3 linked regions of the Homo sapiens genome follow. The protein of the gene in region 2 interacts with the protein of the main gene of each other region in a pairwise test. Each region holds a gene or a part of one and is shown on either strand. Other genes may lie near its edges.

The links.
Region 1: the proteins of SEC22B (region 2) and TMEM229B interact in binary tests that used the Homo sapiens proteins (3 or more experiments, as listed by UniProt).
Region 3: the proteins of SEC22B (region 2) and MGST2 interact in binary tests that used the Homo sapiens proteins (3 or more experiments, as listed by UniProt).

What each region holds. Positions count from the first base shown.
Region 1 is NC_000014.9:67,474,989-67,478,740, reverse strand, and holds part of TMEM229B (transmembrane protein 229B), read left to right. Parts: intron 1-3,752.
Region 2 is NC_000001.11:120,155,878-120,159,629, forward strand, and holds part of SEC22B (vesicle-trafficking protein SEC22b), read right to left. Parts: intron 1,316-3,752; coding exon 1,161-1,315; 3' UTR 1-1,160. UniProt on the Homo sapiens protein: SNARE involved in targeting and fusion of ER-derived transport vesicles with the Golgi complex as well as Golgi-derived retrograde transport vesicles with the ER.
Region 3 is NC_000004.12:139,668,816-139,672,567, forward strand, and holds part of MGST2 (microsomal glutathione S-transferase 2), read left to right. Parts: intron 1-3,752. UniProt on the Homo sapiens protein: Catalyzes several different glutathione-dependent reactions. Catalyzes the glutathione-dependent reduction of lipid hydroperoxides, such as 5-HPETE.

The sequences.
Region 1 (3,752 bases), on a different chromosome or scaffold from region 2:
GGTCTTAAAGGAGGGTTCACCGGCCCTGGGTGGGGCCCAGGTAGCAAAAACAGCAAGGTAGAGATCTGGAGGACAGGATTGGAGGCAGGGACGAGTTGTGAAGGGCTTTGCCAGCCGTCCCCAGGGGTTTGAGCTTTATTTACTCTGTAGATGTTGAAGATCCACTCATGGGCTTCAAGTGGTGAGAAACATCGGATTTGCATTTTAGAAAGGTTGCGTTTTTTCTACACACTCTTTCATCCTGTGATGAGTGAATTAGAAGGAAGAAGGCAAAGCTGGGAGACCTTTGGAGTCATCCAGGTGAGACATGATGAGGGCGTGAACCAGAGCAGTGGCAGCAATGAGAAGAGTAATGAAGAGGAGGGGATGGATCCCAAAGATATTTAAGAGGTGGTAAGGGTGGGAGTTAGTAGCTGACTTGGTGGCTTTCCCTTGGCCAGTGGGATGATGGTGGGCATGGCTTAGCCAGGGTCTTGAACCACACTTGTACAGCTAGCCTTGCTCAGCTTTGTGCCTCTGCCCTTGCCATGAGAAGAATATGCCCAGGCAAGTCCACTGGGCCCCGGAGGAGGATGAGAGACAGGTGGAGTGGAGCTACGCTGCCCCAGCCGTCTGCCAACCACAGACATGTGAGCTGTAATAGTAGACGGTAGTTGTTTTAGGCCAGGGTTTTTGAGATGATTTGTTATATGGCGATTGCTAACTAAGAAATGTCTTTATTCTTCTCTTGAATGCTTACTATGTGCTGGGCTTTGTGCCAGGCACTGGGAATACTATGCTGAACCAGGCAGGCAAGGCCCTCACTCTCAGGAACTCATGTTAGGGTGGGGATGTGGCAGAGGAAGCCAGACAGACTTTGAGACCGCTGGTTCTAACTGGGTGCATGGTGGTGCCATTAATTGGGGTGGGGGTCTTAGGAGAGAAACAGGTTTTGGGGAAAAGATAATGGGTTTGATTTTATTTATTTATTTTTTAGAGACAGAGTCTCACTGCATTGTCTAGGCTAGTCTTGAATTCAAGAGTTCTGGGCTCGAGCGATCCTTCTGCCTCTGCCTCCCAAAGTGCTAGGATTACAGGCATAAGCCACCACACCTGCCCATGGGTTTGATTTAGGAAAGGAGTTTGGGATGCCTGTGGGACATTAGGGGGAGCTGTCTAGGGAAGGGCAGGAGCTATAGGTGTAGCACACAGGAAAGAGGTCTGGCCGGGGACAGAAATTCTCAATATAATATTGAAAATAACCTGTAGCAAAGGGAGTGAGACAGAGTAAGTGCTGTAGAAATTCAGAAGAGGAAGAGAAGCCTTGGGACCTGGGGGAATGAAAGAGATTTTGTTCTGAAGGTAACCTGCAAGCTGGTTTATACTCATGGAAGTGAGAGGAGAAAGGCACGCCTAACAGAATGAATAGGACCTGCAAAGGCATGGAGATGAAAGACAGGAAGAGCTGGATTGTGAGGAAAAGGCTGAAGATGTCAATCGGGGCAAGGTCATGAAGAATCTTGAATGGCAGGCCAAGGATGCTGTTGTGTTTCATTAGGAAATAAGGAGATATCGAACATTTTTTTTTTTTTTTTGAGATGGAGTTTCGCTCTTGTTGTCCAGGCTGGAGTGCAATGGTGCGATCGCGACTCACTGCAACCTCCACCTCCCAGGTTCAAGCGGTTCTCCTGTCTCAGCCTCCTAAGTAGCTGGGATTATAGGCGCATGCCACCACATTTCAGCTGAAGCAGGCCTGGTCACATTAATACCTACCCATCCATTGTTTTTTTGTATTTTTAGTAGAGACAGGGTTTCATCATTTTGGTCAGGCTGGTCTTGAACTCCTGACCTCAGGTGATCTGCCCATCTCCGCCTCCCAAAGTGCTGGGATTACAGGCGTGAGCCACTGTGCCCAGCCACTATCGAGCATTTTTGAGCAGGGGAGAGACATTTGGTACGTATGTCTAAGAGATGGGCAGTCATGTGCAGGGGATGAGTTCTGCAGTAGAAAGCAAGAGATATTGGTTCTAATCTCAGCTCTTCCATTTACTGGCCCTGGGATATGGGGTAAATAATGTCCCCTCTCTGAGCTCTGTCTCACTGCAAAAAAATGGGAGTAAAATTTTCTGACCTTCACATGAATCTTTTTTATTTTATTTATAAATATATTTTTTGGAGAGGAAGTCTTGCTCTGTTGCCCAGGCTGGAGTGCAGTGGCATGATCTTGGCTCACTGCAACCTCCGCCTCCTGGGTTCAAGCAATTTTTCTGCCTCAGCCTCCCAAGTAGCTGAGACTACAGGTGCATGCCACCACACCCAGCTAATTTTTGTATTTTTAGTAGAGACAGGGTTTCACCATGTCGGCCAGGTTGTTCTCAAACTCCTGACCTCAGGTGATCCACCCGCCTCAGCCTCTCACAGTTCTGGGATTACAGGTGTGAGCCACTGCGCCCAGCCTGAATTTTAATTATGTAAGAACCATGACAAAATGCGAACGAAGTGCTTGGAAGACCACAGAGCAATGCACAAGGCTGGGTAGGTATTAATGTGACCAGGCCTGCTTCAGCTGAAATGTGAGGCTGGAATTCCCAGACAGGTGTGCATACTACAGATGCCATTTCCTTAACCTCTGTCTTTTCTCCCACCTTGGAGAGGGGATCGACAGAGATGTGAAGCCATTAGCAGCTGGCAGAGCTGGGATTTATGTTCTCAAGCCCTACCTTCCCATTCTTGATGCAGTCCCACACCTCCCTCCACATGAACAGGACATGTCATTTAGAGAGGGCCTGCCCAGGACGGGCCTGCGTCAAGGCCACAAAGCACTGGCCTGTGCAACAGTCACTATCCTCAAGGAGTTCACATGCTAGTTGGATCATGAGAGCACATACCTCAAAAAGCCATTGGGGTGGCACCTGATAATGGGCCAGGTAAGTGGTGCAGACAGTCGCTGGTGGAGGGTGAGGAGAAAGTAGAGAGAAGCAGCATGGGAGCCGGGCGTTGAAGACTGGTGGGGTTTAAAAGAGGGGAGGGGAAAGGAGCCAGAAGGACTGGGGAGGACTCTTTCCTGTGTCAATCCATTGGTTTCCCCTCAGCACTGAAACCAAACACCAAAACCCCATTTAATGGAGCAAAGACAAATGTGACCACAATGAGAGAACCACCTCACACCCATTAGGATGGCCATTATAAAAACAAAACAGAAAATAACAAGTGTTTGGGGTGGATGTGGAGAAATTGGAACCCTTGTACATTGCTGATGGGGAATGTAAAATGGTGTGGCCACTGTGGAAAACAGCACAGTGGTTCCTCAGAAAGTTAACCATAGAATTACCATATGATCCAGTATTTCCACTTCTGCATATGTACTTGAAAGAGTTGAGAGCAGGGACTCAGACAGACCTTTGTACACCCGTGTTCATAGCAGCCTTATTTTGAGTAGCCAAAAGGTAGAAGCAACCCAGGTGTCCATCAATGGATGAATGGATAAACAAAATATGGTGATATATACAATGGAATATGATTCCGCCTTTAAAAGGAAGGAAATTCTGGCTGGGCACAGTGGCTCACGCCTGTAATCCTAGCACTTTGGGAGGCCAAGGCGGGCGGATCACCTGAGCTCAGGGGCTTGTGACCAGCTTGGGCAACATGGTGAAACCTCGTCTCTACTAAAATTCAAAAATTAGCCGGGCATGATGGTGTGTGCCTGTAGTCCCAGCTACTCAGGAGTCTGAGACAGGAGAATCGCTTGAACCCAGGAGGCGGAGGTTGCAGTG
Region 2 (3,752 bases):
ATCTATCTCCAGAACATTCTCAGAGAATTTACACGAACTAAAACAGGAATGAAGTGCTCTCAGAGACTTTTTCTCAGGTAAATGTATTTAGTAGTTTGAGTAGTTGATCTGCAAAAACTTTAACTTTAATTAACTACATAGATGAATATTTTTTATTTTGAAATTTGAGAATGTCCTAAGAGGATGTCTACAGGATATGAAACTACTGGGTGCAGGAAAATTTTTTAAATGTTAGCAAATTGTGGCAAGAGGAAAACAAACAGTGGAGAAAACTGTGGTAGAGAAAGTAAAGAAGGGGCAGGAGAAAGCTGTAATTATAACCTGGGCCTGCCTTTGTTCTCATGAAGCCAGGGGCCTCTCCATATCCTATACTTGCTCTTACGCTAATAACAAACCAAATGCTGCAAAATAAAAGTAATAATGACCCAAACTAATTTAAGTCTTTTGTTTAAGGAGTAAATGAGAGAAACATTTTAGCTTCTTAATCAAGGAGTGCTATAATTTCAAGGCATCTTAATATAATTCACTTACCCTAAAGCAATTGTGCAATAAGCAAATTATAAAAGGAAAACAACAAAGGTTAACTTTCTACAGGGGCCAATAGACAAGATCTGTGGAGCACAGCAATTAACCTTCACATACTGGAGTCTTGTTTAAAAGGCCATCAAAAACTCAGATTACTGAAAATCACAAATGTCACCAACAAAAGGAATGTTGATTAGAGTCAAAAAAAAAAAAAAAAAAAAAAACACCTTCCCAAAGGACTGCCTTCTTTGAAGGAATTTCAGAATGTTGCTAGCACAGGTTGACTAAGTTAAATCTCATTGATGGCTCCATCAGAGAATGAGAATGCCCCAGCCAGTGCTGTTTTTAAAATGCACTGGGAGGGAAAAAACGAAATTAACAATCTACTATTCCCTAATATATATGGCTTGGCACCCAGAGAAAGCCTCTGCCCCCGAAAGAGACTTTCTACATAGGGTTAAGCTTCATTAAATGAGGTGCAACCTTTCATTTTCAGGGCATCTCTTTTCTTGCAAGGTCTTTAGAGGCAGAAGTTCCACTTGGATTCTAATACACATCTCTGTGAGCTCAGTTTCCTGAAAATATACACCTACTGGGTTCTAGGTTCTCCCTTACCAGTGACTGTATTCATTATTTCACAGCCACCAGAATCGGACATACACTATTAACATGATGAAAAATACAGCTACTGCTGCAAGTTTGGCATAAGTGGAACGCATGTTCAAGTACTTCGCATCCTGGCGGTATTTCTTGGACAGACTGGACAAATTGTTAGCCTTTGAATCCAATGCTGTCAAAGAGGAAAAAAGGAAAACATTAATTAGTCCCTGGAAGTATTTTACCGAAAGTATTAAGGCAAACCAAAATGAGCAGCACTGCAACAACCATGAATCTTAAATCATCATTTTTATTTTAAGGCTAACATTGCATATACTAATTAACTGATGATGCTGATCAGATGATGTCTGAATTTTTGAGGCTATATAGTAAGGTGGTTAGAAGTGCAGGTTCTGGCCTCAGACTCTTTGGTTCAGATATCACCTGTACAAGTTATGTGACATTGGTCAAGTCATGTAACCTATTTAAAACCTAGTTTCTTCATCTATAATTGGGGATAATAACAGTAACTATGTCATAAAGTTGTATGTACATGAGATTGCCTGTAAAGTGAGCAACAATGCCTGCACATGATAAATTATAATAATTATTACATGTTAATAATTATTATCTTCATAATCTTCTAATGGTCTGAATCATATTCTCTTATATTTTGAAAAACGATAATGATAACCCATGTAAAACAAACTCAGATAACCAGAAAATTCAATTAACCAAACACAGTCTTAAGCTATACTTCAATGATGACTGCTAACATTTCTAAGATTCTCCACATAGTAGAGACTACTATGAAGTTAAAGCTATCAGGATTTATATTTCAATAGACATAGGAAAGTTGTAACTAAAATACAATAAGTACTACAAAAAAAAACGCAAGTAAATTAAGCTTTTTAGTATTTTCTGGCAAGTTTTTTCACCCCCAAGGACATTTGTAATGTTGTTATCTTCTTATAACAGTTAACTAAACACTTAGAGAAATAGCCAGATAGACACAAGCTAGACCATATTAAAATATAAGGCATATTTTAATAATAAACACAAACTCTCCATTTGACATAATAAATTCTGATCAAACTTTTCACTTCTTGAAATTTCAGAAAAAACTATTTTGCAATCCGGTTGTTTCTTCCTTAAAGAATGCTTTTGGAATATTTGGAGTTGCTTAATAGAGACTGGTTTTGATTGGGAAACATGGCGTTACTTAATAACACAGGCATGACAGCCACGTCTGAATTAGCAACTGATCACATGAGTAAGAAAAACATCTAGTCACGGAAGAAGAGTCAGGGACTGAGAAACAACCATGACAATGCACAGGGCATCTTTTTACAGAGCCTACAAGAATATACACTTCACTGGACAGGGATTTTAAATTATTGTGTTTGCTGCTATATCCTGAATGCCCAGAACAGGGCCTGGTATATAGTTAGTGCTCAATAAACATTTGCTAAATGAATCTAAATCTGCTGAGAATAACTCAGCAGAGGAACAATTATTAGACCCTATGAAACAAGTCATAGTTGAGAGAATTTATATATGAACGTTTTGAAATACAGGATAACATAAAGACAAAGCTATTGCTTGGAGAAGTCATTTAACAAATATTTATGTGACAGGCACCATGTGAAGTGCTGAGGATACAACAGTGATCAAAATATACATGATCCCTGCCTTTAAGGAATTTAGAGTCTTGCATGAGTGATACAAGAAAAATTCCTGTGCTAGTCTACTTTATCCCATATAGGAATTGCAAGTCTGTATGACAAAACCTTACACACTCACTCACTCAAAATTTGGTATTTAAAGAGTGTGAAGGTAAATGAATAACTGCTCACTACTCAAAAAAAGGTTAAAGTTTGTAGTTCATAATAAAAGAAAACTCACTTACTAATGAATATATAGCATGGCTGAATTCAAAAATACTTATTAAGGAACCTATTTGTGACCATTTCTGTGGGGGATATATAAGGAGTATGTGAAACAGATATAAAATACATAAGCACTATCTTTAAAGAGCTTACATGTCCACATTAAACACTTAGGTAATATTTAAATATCAGGTAAATATACATATACTTTTAACCTAATTTTACCTAATTACCTACACTTTTAAAATTATATAAAGGGCTGGGTGTTGTGGCTCATGCCTGTAATCCCAGCACTTTGGGAAGCTGAAGTGAGTGGATTGCTTGAGCCCTGGAGTTTGTGACCAGCCGGAACAACATGGCAAAACCCCATCTCTACTAAGAAAATACAAAAATTAGCCAGGCGTGGTGGCACATGCCTGTAGCCCCAGGTACTCAGGAGGATAAGGTGGGAAGATCGCTTGAACCCAGGAGATGGTGGTTGCAGTGAGCCAAGATCGTGCCATTGCACTCCAGCCTGGGCAACAGAACAAGACTCTGTCTCAAAAAAATATACGAAATTATATAAAAATATTTAATTATCCAAATATGTTTGCCTACTTTAATATAAATATATGAAATATATACTTATGTTATATGGAAATATATTTAATATATATTAAATATATATTTAATATGGTAAGAGGTATTTAATAAATATATTTAAGGTAAATTAGGTAAACACACATACATGTAATATGTGCT
Region 3 (3,752 bases), on a different chromosome or scaffold from region 2:
CTTATGTTCAGGTGGTTTGGCCAGGGATATTCCTTGGGCTCTGTCAGGATTTGATAGGGATATTTCTTCAGTTGGGTCTTTGCTTGGCAGGGTATGATAAAGATGTTCCTGTGTCTTGTGGTCAGGTGGCTAGGCAGGATTTCTCAGGGCCCGAACCCCCATGGAATGTTTCACTTTGACAAAGGCCTGTGAAATGGCAGGGGGCTTACAAAATGGTGTAGTTTGGACTAACATTAAGGTCTGTTTCAATGTTAATGCTGGTCAGTTATGCCTGAATTCCAAAGGGCGGAGGATATAATGAGGCACATCTGACACCTTTTCCCCATCATGGCCTGAACTCGTTTTTTAGGTTAACTTTGGAATGCCCTTGGCTGAGAGGAGGACTCCATTTAGATGGTTGGGGGGCTTAGAATTTTATTTTTGGTTTACAAAGGAGAGAGAGAGTGTGTAAGAGGGAGACAGAGAGAGGAAGACACAACTGTTTAGCTGGCATTAGGAACCAGAATTTGCTCCTTTTGCAAGTCTGATGTTCATGGAGTCGGGACACCATGTGCCATGGTTGAAGCAGCTTAGGTTTTGAAGACAGACAGAGCTGTATCTGTTGGTCTAGCCACTTCCCAGCTGGGTGTCCCCGTTCAGGATACACTGCCCTTCAATGTTACCATCAAAGAGGGTTTAATGGGACGCTGGGGAGGAAATCCCACCATAGTTCCTGGCCCCATGTAGGCGCTCAGCACTGTCAGTTCCCATCCTAAGGTCCTTCTTCGAAGAGAGAAGTTTCTGCTGCATGGAGAGGTAGAGACAGGGTGAAGGTACCCAGCTGTGGCTGGGTGGGCATCACAGGGGGTAAGGGGCAGAGAAAGCTTCCCCTTCACCCTCTGAAGGTTCACTGAACGTCAACTGACAAAAGGCAGATTAACAGGAGAAAGGCTGTGACAATTTATTTTAATATGCACAGCATGAGAGAATGGTTGCCCAATAATCCAAAGGGGTACAGCAGTTTGTATACCATTCTTCACAGGGGAGGGAGGAAATGGGGAATGCAGACAATTCTTTTGAGTGGTAGTAAACAATTATTAGGGAGAATGAATGGACTGGGAGACAAAGTAACTTGTCAATGATTCTCTGGAATTTGATTGGCCAGAGGGGTAGGCTTAATCTGGTGGGAAAGTTCGTCCAGGTGTGTGCATTCCTCGGTCTTCTTTTCCACATGAGATAATGAGGTCTGAGGGAGGAGACGGCAGGCAATTGTGTTTGTCTTAGGGGGTCTGGTTTCTAGGTAGATAAGGGAGTTTCAGAGGACTGCCCAGCTGCATCCTGTGCCTTGGTAGAGACCACAGGTTGAGACAGGAGGCAGTGGAGAGGTCACAAAGACCTTGAGGCAGCTTCTTTAGTTCAGTCATATTTTGAGGTGTAATATTCTGATTTCCTTCGGTGGGGGGCGGGGGGGGGGCGGTTAACAGAAATACCAAACTCTGTGAAATCTTTTAAAGAGGTTTATTCTGAGCCAATATGAGTGACCATGGCTCGGAGAAAACACAAACCCAAGAAGCCTTCAGTGGGTGGTCCCAAGGCAATTGGGTTACAGTTTGGTTTTATACATTTTAAGGAGGCAGGAATTATAGGCAAAGACATAAATCAATACATGGAAGGTATCTATTGGTTCGGCCCCAAAAGGTGGGATATCTTAAAGCCAGGGGGCTTACAGATTATAAGTGGACTCAGAGATTCTCAGATTTGCAGTTGTTAAAGGAGTAAAGCTTTGTTTAAAGACTTGAATTCAGCACAAAGAAATGCTTACATTAAGAGAAGGGGTGGCCAGGTGTGGTGGTTCATGCCTTTAATCAAGCACTTTGGGTGACCAAGGTGGGTAGATCACTTAAGCCCAGGAGTTCAAGACCAGCCTGGGCAACATGATGAAATGCTGTCTCTATTAAAAATACAAAAAATTAGCTGAGTGTTGTGGCACTCACCTGTAATCCCAGCCACTTGGGAGGCTGAGGTGTGAGAATTGCTTGAGTCCATGGGTTGCAGTGAGCCGAGATCATGCCACTGCACTCCAGACTGGGTGAGAGTGAGACCCTATCTCAAAAAAAAAAAAAAAAAGATAAAGAGGTCATGTGATGCTATACCAGAGTCAGTTGGAAAGTAAGCCACATACTGGGTTAATTTAAAAGAACTGGCCTAATGAGATTTGATGGTTTGTAGGGCGTGACTTAACCCTTGCCTTGTAAGGCCTTAGGTCTTGTCTACAATTTGATGTCTTCTTGCTGCAGCCGGCTTTGTTAGTCTTATGATCCCCATTTTAACCTTAATCCTGGGCAGTTGTGCCTAAACTCCAAAAGGGAGGGGGCACAACCAGGTGTGTCCTACCTCCCTTCCCCTCACGGCAGGGAATTCAGTTTTTCAGGTCTCTCTGGGGTTCCCTCGGCCAAGAGTGGGTCTGTTCAGTTGTTTGGGGGTTAGGATTTCATTTTTGGTTTCTCCTCAGCACATGTGTATCTCTGGAGAAAGCTAGGGAAAGAGGAAAGACAGGCAAAGCAAAAGGAGATTATTATCTAGAGGTTTTAATCAACTCATAAGGGAAATAAAGTTGAAACTCTACAGAAAAGGAGGTGAAATAGCACCCCACTGTCATCATATATTCATCATATATACGTATATATATTTTCAGACCTACTGCTCTGTCGCCCGGGCTGGAGTGCAGTGGTGTGATCTCAGCTCAACTGCAGCCTCTGCCTCCCAAGGTCAAGCAATTCTCCTGCCTCAGCCTCCCGAGTAGCTGGGACTACAGGTGCGCCACCATGCCCGGCTAATTTTTGTTGTTGTTCTTTTTGTTTTTTTGAGAGGGAGTCTCACTCTGTGGCCCAGGCTGGAGTGCAGTGGTGTGATCTCGGCTCACTGCAACCTCTGCCTCCCAGGTTCAAGTGATTCTCCCGGCTCAGCCTCCTGAGTATCTGGGACTACAGGCACACGACACTGCACCTGGCTAATTTTTGTATTTTTAGTAGAGATGGGGTTTCACCGTGTGGGCCAGGCTGGTCTTGATCACCTGACCTCAAGTGATCCACCCGCCTCAACCTCCCAAAGTGCTGGGATTACAGGCACGAACTACCGCACCTGGCCCCACTCTCATCATATTATTCCAAAAATAGCCATGGTCTCTCTGAGGCCCCTCACCTGAGAGAACAGAAGGGCTTCTATCCCTTGGGGCTGGAGGTGAGCCCAGCTGAATCCTCTTTCTTGGGGCTGGACTGGGAGTAGGTGGGATATCTCAGTACCTCTTCCATTTACTGAAGCTCATTCCTCACACTTGCTAGTGTCACAAACAGATGCCCATTGGGTGCAATTAACGTAAGAAAAGATAGCACTTTTAAGGCTTGCTTACTCCCAGCCTCATTTTGAAGCTCTAGGCTCCTGTGCATTACTAATTCATAAGTCTAGGAGCACATACCTTTCATTATTTCCATTTTATAGGTGGAAACAAGAAGACTTGCCAAGTATTTTCTGCAAGGCTGTGAAGCATGTTAGAAGCAATGGTAATAGCAGGTGCAGAGTGGCCAAGTCCTCATTTCCCCCTCAATGGACAAATCCCTTTAGCTGAGCCCATGAGTCATTGGCCTTTCCAGATTGATGCTGCCCTGGAGGGATGGAGCCCAGGGTTGGAGACAGTCAGGGCCCATCTGTACATTCCTTCTCCTCACTCTGCTCTCTCAGGCTGCAGTATGAATGAGAAAACTCCAATCCCAAGC